Homo sapiens: one gene and its partner. The main gene of each other region encodes a partner of the protein of the gene in region 2 in a complex. Each region holds a gene or a part of one and is shown on either strand. Other genes may lie near its edges. The genes, in order: G3BP1 and CAPRIN1.

Region 1 (3,920 bases), on a different chromosome or scaffold from region 2:
TTCTACATTGATTTGGGTTGGTTTTTTTTTTTTGAGCCAGAGTCTCAGTATGTCGCCCATGATGCAGTGCAGTGGCACAATCATGACTCACTGCAGCCTCAACCTCCGGGACTCAAGCAATCCTCCCACCTCAGCTTCCTAAGTAGCTAGGACTACAGATGCATGCCACAAGGCCCAGCTAATTTCTTATTTTTTGTAGAGACAGGGTCTCACTATGTTGCCCAGACTGGTTTCAAACTCCTAGGCTCCAGTGATCAGCTGGCTTCAGCCTCCTAAAGTGCTGGGATTACAGGCATGAGCCACACTGCACCTGACCAGTTTTCACATTCTCTAAACCTCTGTTGAATCAAATTACCACAATAGAAGTAAATTTGCCTAATGTACAAGTTTTATTAGGACCTTACCTGTGAAGCTGGTACTTTAACAACATGAGGTGGTATCCCAGTAACTGGAACAGCTCCACTGGGTGGAAGATTCTTACTGGTCACAGATGCCCAAGAAAATGTCTAAGGGAGCAATACCAACATTACATAATTATACCAGGTATCAAAACAATATAAAAGCTACTAACTCTTGATTTCCTGTACAGAACAAACGGTAACACATTCTCATAGGCAGGATGGAGTTTATATATATATATTAAGATTCTTCTCTTTCAGCTATTCAAAATTTAGTACTGAAATTCCTTGGGACTGATGATCAAGTACCAAGCAAATCCGAGAGGCTTAGGTTCAAGAAACTACTCACTTTTTTTTTTGAGACAGAATCTTGCTCTGTTGCCCAGGCTGGAATGCAGTGGCATGCACACAGCTCATTGCAGCCTACATCTCCTGTGCTCAAGTGATCCTCCCACCTGTTTCCCAAGCAGCTGAAACTACAGGCATGTGCCACCATGTCCAGCTATTTTTTCTTTTTAGTAGAGATGAAGTCTCACTATATTGACCAGGCTGGTCTTGAACTCCTAAACTCAAGCAATCCTCCTGGCCTCAGCCTCCCAAAGTGCTGGGATTAAATGCGTAAGCCACAACGCCTGGCCCAACAAAAGCTACTTTCATTCAAATCTGTGAATCAAACAAAATTCCCTCTCCTCCAAAATCAGCTCAGCTCTTCCTACTGTGATTCCATCCAATCCATTGTACAAACATCGACTCAATTACATCAATTGTAGAATCATCATAAACACCTTTCTCGCACATTTAAAAATCGCCAGAACCTGTTATTCTACCTAATTATTTCTTTTCCATTTCCACTGCCACAACTCTAATTCAAGCCATCATTCTCTCTCACTAGGGTTACTATAATAACCAACTAAGTGGTCAGCTGGTCCAGCCAACCTACTTTTCCACTTGCTTCTTATGGTTTTGTTCTTGTGACAAGGTCTTACTCTATTACCCAGGCTGGAATGCAGTGGCATAATCATAGCTCACTGCAGCCTTGACTTCCCAGGCTAAGCCATCCTCCTACCTCAGCCTCCCAAGCAGGTGGGACCACACATAGGCACCACCATGCCCAGCTAATTTTTTCCACTTGCAAGCTAAAGTCATTTCAACATTGCTCTTTCCTACTCACCTATTAGCTGCCAGAGAACAAGAACCCCTATCTGTTTTGCCAATATAAAACCTACACTTTGAACAATGCCTAACACACAGCAGGAATTTGAATTATTGAACAAACAAATGACATAACCCTGAGCCTATAAACACAGCACTAAAAATTATATTCCTTTCCAGAGCACCAAATGCAAAGGTTTCAACGATAGTTCAGTTAACAATCACCCTGACGAGACTCAGAAGGACAAACTGAAAACTTCTGAAATCAGGTATGCCAACTAGAAAAGAAGTTTTACTTCAGCAGTTCATTTCTACTTCCACTATAAAGTTATCTTCAATAAAATTTCATAGAAAAAGTATATTCTGCCATGTTATTTTTCTTGAAAAGATGTTATGCACTTGTAGTAACAAGTATGTAATAATTTATAGTGTAAAAGATTAAATATTAAATAGAAAAGGAATCACTGATAGGGTGCTACAGTGGCACCTAAAATTTCTGGTCTAACAGGCATTCAAGTTACCTCGGGGAAGGGAGTGGTTTCTTTTGATGAAATAAACTAATACACATCTTACCTCTCTCTTATCAAACATATGGCTCAATATCTAAGAAATTTCCCTGAAATGAACCACCAATATGAAAATGTATCTACAAGTCAACCAAACAGCAATACAAAAGAACAGAAACTTTTTTTAAAAAAAATAACTAGGAATAGAATAAAAATGAAGACACGTTTCATACCCTCAAGTCTTCCTGTACTGTCTGAGCTATGTCTGCAGGTGCTGGAGAAGAACTCTTCTGAGCATCCTCAGGGGCAGTTTCTTCTAATACTGGCTCAGGCTTTTCCTCTTGGATTTCAGATACAGGTTCTTGTTCTGGTTCTGGTTCAGGATCAGGCTCTGGTTCAGCAACAGGCTCCTCTAAATGTTCTTCCATGTCATTACTTTGACAGGAAAATTTGAGAAATATCATTCTGCCACCATTTATTTCACAAAAAATTCCTCCATCATTTATTAATCAGAAACCAGAACACAGAGTTAGCTCCTTCTATCCAAAACAAAAATCTAAGAATTGTATATCTATCTGAGTTTTTAAAAAGTAATTTTTAAAATGCCACTCAATAACTTAACTGGAATCCATTTGTTTGGCAAATTCTGATAAGCAAATGAATCAGGACATCAAAATGAACCAAACCACTTTATGGCTGGAATCCCACAACTATTACAATTCATTTAGCATACAACATCAGAAAAACTCTCAAAATAGGCTGGGGCGGGGGGGGCGGGAAAGAAAGTTGCCATTCAATGGGTATAGTCTGTTTATAAGGTATATAAAGTTATCTTCAATAAAAGTTGTAAGGTGAAAAGTCCTAGATATCTGTCATAGAACCACATCTATACAGTTAACACTACTGTACTTTACACTTAAAAATGGTTAAGATGAAAAAAAGGTTAAGATGGCAAATTTTATGATATGTGGCTTTTAACACAAACACACAAAAACTCTTTCAAGCACATAAGGAATTTGGGGGAGAAAATAGTTATGATTCAGAATACAATTCTTAAAATTCCACATAAATCAACCAGAAATGCTGTTAAAACTGCAGAGGGGGCTGGGCACACACCTGTAATCCCAGCACTTTGCGAGGCCAAGGTGGGCAGATCACCTGAGATTAGGAGTTCCAGACCAGCCTGGCCAATATGGCGAAACCCCATCTCTACAAAAACACAAAACTTAGCCGGGCATGGTGGCGTGCGCCTGTAGTCCCAGCTACTCAGGAGGCTGAGGCAGGGGGATTGCTTGAATCCAGGAAGCGGAGGTTGCAGTCAGCCAAGATCGCGCCACTGCACTCCAGCCTGGGTAACAGAGCAAGACTCTGTCTCAATAGAACAAAAACAAACAAAACTGCAGATGTTTTGCCTCCTGAAAGTCTAATTCGGTAGGTTTGCAGTGGGACCATGAATCTTCATTTTCAACCAGCAACCCAAGTGAGTAACCTGATTAGTTCATCACACCTTAAGAAACACTTGAAAACACCCTTCAGGCACTGAATATTAACATTCAGTATCACATGGTAACAAGTAAATATGGATTTCTATTGCTATCAAACACATTTCTGTTCTAATCACAAGGGGGAAAAAACCCAAAGGTATAATGATGCACTTACTAACGTAATGAAATTCTTTATTGCTACTTAACTCACATATTGGTATTTATATCAATTTATGCCCGATCTCTAATTAAATAGGTCTCTGTCCACTTCATATTCCCTCAAAGCATTTAATACCTCAATACATTCAACTCTTGATAAACAATATGCAAGTTTTCACTTAACACCAAGAAAAAACTAAACCAAAAAGAAACTGATACTA
Region 2 (3,920 bases):
GTTTCTTTCTTAGCTTATGAAAGAAAATAAGAATTTCATCAGTGTCCAAGTCTTCTGTTGGAATTCAGCAAATTTATTGTTGTGGATAGCTGTCAGCCTTTATTTTTATGTTTAGGTTCATTTTTCCTCTTGATGACTTTTTAAGTTTTTCTTAAGTCTTGCATTTTAAATAATGTATTATAATATAATAAGCCTTTTTTATTTAGAACTGAGAATTTCAGAAGACATAGTTTAGACATAATTCTAAAATTTAGTGCAGATTTCTCCATCTTAGAAGTACTTGTGGAGGGCTTTTATAACGAGACTTGGGTTTATTTAACGTCGAGCTTCAAAAATATATATATTTTTGCAATTTTTAGGTTTTATATTATACAAATTTAAAGAGAGATGGTAATATTAATTTCTCCCTTCTTTAGCAGTTGTATCTATTTCTTAGCCTTATGCGTCTTAGAGGTAACTTGTTTTTTTAACAGTCAATTTTGTAAGCAGGAAGAAGCTTTTATTTCTTTACTTATGTCTAGGTTCCTTTGGTATCATCCACAAGTGAGGGGTACACAGCATCTCAACCCTTGTACCAGCCTTCTCATGCTACAGAGCAACGACCACAGAAGGAACCAATTGATCAGATTCAGGCAAGTTCTGTTACCGGGTCACATACATTTGATGAGGCACTTACTCATGAATTGAACAGATGTACATTACCATTAATATAATGATTCTTCTTTTTGGACCTACTTTGCTTTCATGAAATATTTGAGTTTGTTAATACATATAAGTTTGAGATTAATTTACCACTTTAGTACATCTGTTCACTTTTTGTTTGGCTAAGTTTAGTTTACCGCTAAAGTGCATCTATTCACTTTGTGTTTAGGCAACAATCTCTTTAAATACAGACCAGACTACAGCATCATCATCCCTTCCTGCTGCGTCTCAGCCTCAAGTATTTCAGGCTGGGACAAGCAAACCTTTACATAGCAGTGGAATCAATGTAAATGCAGCTCCATTCCAATCCATGCAAACGGTAAGCAAATTAACTAACATTAATTGCCTAGTATGTAATATGAATCATGGTAGATTTTCTTTTCTTTTTTAAAGGTCTTCATTTAACTGTGCTTGAGTCTGCATCTTTCATTAACTGTAGGGTATATTTAATTGAACATAAACTGATTATTCCAGAGATTAACTGATACTAACGGATATTCTAGAGATAAATTTTAGCCTTATGAGTGATGTGCCTGTATCATCTTAATTTGTAGTTTTACCCTTTTGATTTGATTAACAAAAGCTTAAACATTCAGAGAAATAGACTAATATAACATCCATATAATCATTACCTAGATTTAATAGTTGCCCTGTTTGCTTAATCTTTTATTTTACTGAAGTATTTTGAAGTTTCAGATGTTATGCTTTACCTTGATTCTTGAGCAAGCACCTTTAGAGAATTTCTAGAAAATAATAATAATACTATAATCTGTGGGGTGCAGCTAAATCGGTGCTGAGAGGAAAGTTCATAAGATTAAATATTAAAATAACTTTTGATTAATATGTTAATAAAAATGAAAAAACATTCAACCCTGTTAAAGTTCATAGAACAAACTTCTGTAAGTGGTACTGCATCCAGGAGTTTGTCTTATTTATTTATTTTTTGAGACAAAGTCTTGCTCCGTCGCCCAGGCTGGAGTGTAGTGGCGTGATCTCAGCTCACTGCAATATCCGCCTCCTGGGTTCAAGCGATTCTCATGCCTCAGCCTTTGGAGTAGCTGACACTCCAGGCATAAGCCACCATGCCCAGCTAATTTTTGTATTTTTAGTAGAGACGGGGTTTCACCATGTTGGCCAGGCTGGTCTTGAACTTTTGGCTTCAGATGATCTGCCTGCCTCAGCCTCCCAAAGTGCTGGGATTACAGGTGTGAGCCACTGTGCCAGGCCAGAGTTTGTCTTTTAAAAAGATTTCTCATATATGTAAAAGCATTTCCAAGGCTGCTGATTGCATGTCTTTTTATTTTTTTTAATTCCCTACTTCCATTTCACAGCATATTATACTCCCCTTTAAGTACTATATGGTATATATGTCTTTTTCCACATTGAATCACTTGGAGGGATTTTTGTATGTGTGTGTGATGTTTTTGTGTTTGAGACCTCTGTGATGTCTTTATTTATGTCTGAGGTAAAACCACCATTGAGTTTGGCCATGTTATAAACCAGAGAATAAAAGGATGAACTAATCATTTACTTTATTTACTAACAGGTGTTCAATATGAATGCCCCAGTTCCTCCTGTTAATGAACCAGAAACTTTAAAACAGCAAAATCAGTACCAGGCCAGTTATAACCAGAGCTTTTCTAGTCAGCCTCACCAAGTAGAACAAACAGAGCTTCAGCAAGAACAGCTTCAAACAGGTACGAAATCCAGTGTCACCTCATTGGCTCCTTGCTTTCCAGCACAGTTATTGACAGTGTTAGGACAGTTTAGACTTCAGAGTGGTGGTGTCCAAGAGTTTCTGTTTTAGTAGCAGACCATATGAATTTTTCATTTCAGATCATGAGTTAAATTGAGTCTGTACTTGTATATGTGAATTATGTGCAATTTTTGGAGGCTTTATAGCCATTTTCCTTTTGTCACTGAACTTACATAATATCCCTGTTGCATTGTATAATTTATATGGAATTAAATTTGTTACTTGAATTACCATAAAGTGTACTTTTTTTTTTTTTTTTGAGATGGGGTCTCACTCTGTCACCCAGGCTGGAGCGCAGTGCCGTGATCTCGGCTTACTGCAACCTCTGCCTCCTGGACACAAGCAATCCTCCCTACCTCAGCCTCCCAAGTAGCTTGGGAATACACGCATGTGCCACCACGTCCAGCTAATTTTTTGTATTTTTGGTAAAGTTGGGGTTTCACCATGTTGCCCAGGCTTGTCTTGAACTTCTGAGCTCACGTGATCTGCCCACCTCAGCCTCCCAAAGTGCTGGAATTAAAGGCGTGAGCCATTGCACCTGGTGATAAACTATACTTTTAATTGTTAATTGATTGAAGGCTTTTAGCATGATATCTGGCATTGAGTCAGTTAGACAAAGTTAAGAAAAAACTCATGGTGGCTGCATTTCGTGGACTGGGTTGAAACATAATCTATTTTGTCAAGTAAGGTCATAATTTGGCTAGTTACCATACCTGTCACGATAGTAATGTAGGTAGGGACGCTTTTATGTATTTGAGACAGGTTCTCACTTTGTTGCCCGGGCTGGAGTGCAGTGATGCCAGCATAACTCACTGCAGCCTCAAACTCCTGGGCTCAATGATCCTCCTCCCTCAGCCTCCTGAGTAGTTGGTAGTTGGGACTACAGGTGCTTACCGCCATGGCTGGCTAATTTTTTTTTTTTTTTTGTAGAGATAGGGTCTCCAGGAGCTCACTATGATGCCAGGCTGATCTCCAACTCCTTGCCTTGAGCGAACTTATTGTCTCTGTCTCCCAGAGTGGTGGGATTATGGGCATGAACTACCTTGTCTAGCTCGATAGAGATACTTTAGATTTTTTTTTATATATATATTTTTTTAAGAAATGGGGTCTCTGTCTGTTGCCCAGGTTGGAGTGCAGTGGTGTAATCAGATACTGGAGCCTTTAACTCTGGGGCTCAAATCCTGTACTGGAGCCTTTAACTCCCCACAAGTAGCTTGGACTGCAGGCTTTTCTCAAACTCAGGGCCTCCAGCAGTCCTCCCACCTCTACCTTATAGGCATGAGCCACCATGATGTCTTCTTTAGTTCTTTAATTCCTCAGAATTTAATTGGAATCCCACAACAAACCAGCAGTCAGAGGAGTTAATACTTTCATTTTGTCAGCCCGATTTTGAAAAGTTGTAAAATTTTCTAATTATTCAATTTCTTGGTAAACTTGGATCAGCATTAGATTTTTCAGTAGT

What was found.
Region 1: the proteins of CAPRIN1 (region 2) and G3BP1 are in contact, whole or in part, in a crystal structure (PDB 8TH7), measured with the Homo sapiens proteins. Residues at the interface, in NP_005889.3 of Homo sapiens: Met363, Gln365, Met366, Gln367, Gly368, Pro369, Tyr370, Asn371, Phe372, Ile373, Gln374, Asp375, Ser376, Met377, Leu378; in NP_005745.1 of Homo sapiens: Glu4, Lys5, Pro6, Ser7, Leu10, Val11, Glu14, Phe15, Arg17, Gln18, Thr21, Leu22, Met29, His31, Arg32, Phe33, Tyr34, Gly35, Lys36, Gln58, Lys59, His62, Leu114, Glu117, Asn122, Lys123, Phe124, Tyr125.

What each region holds. Positions count from the first base shown.
Region 1 is NC_000005.10:151,795,798-151,799,717, reverse strand, and holds part of G3BP1 (ras GTPase-activating protein-binding protein 1), read right to left. Parts: intron 2,492-3,920; coding exon 2,290-2,491; intron 507-2,289; coding exon 405-506; intron 1-404. UniProt on the Homo sapiens protein: Protein involved in various processes, such as stress granule formation and innate immunity. Plays an essential role in stress granule formation.
Region 2 is NC_000011.10:34,089,658-34,093,577, forward strand, and holds part of CAPRIN1 (caprin-1), read left to right. Parts: intron 1-521; coding exon 522-632; intron 633-871; coding exon 872-1,021; intron 1,022-2,248; coding exon 2,249-2,399; intron 2,400-3,920. UniProt on the Homo sapiens protein: mRNA-binding protein that acts as a regulator of mRNAs transport, translation and/or stability, and which is involved in neurogenesis, synaptic plasticity in neurons and cell proliferation and migration in multiple cell types.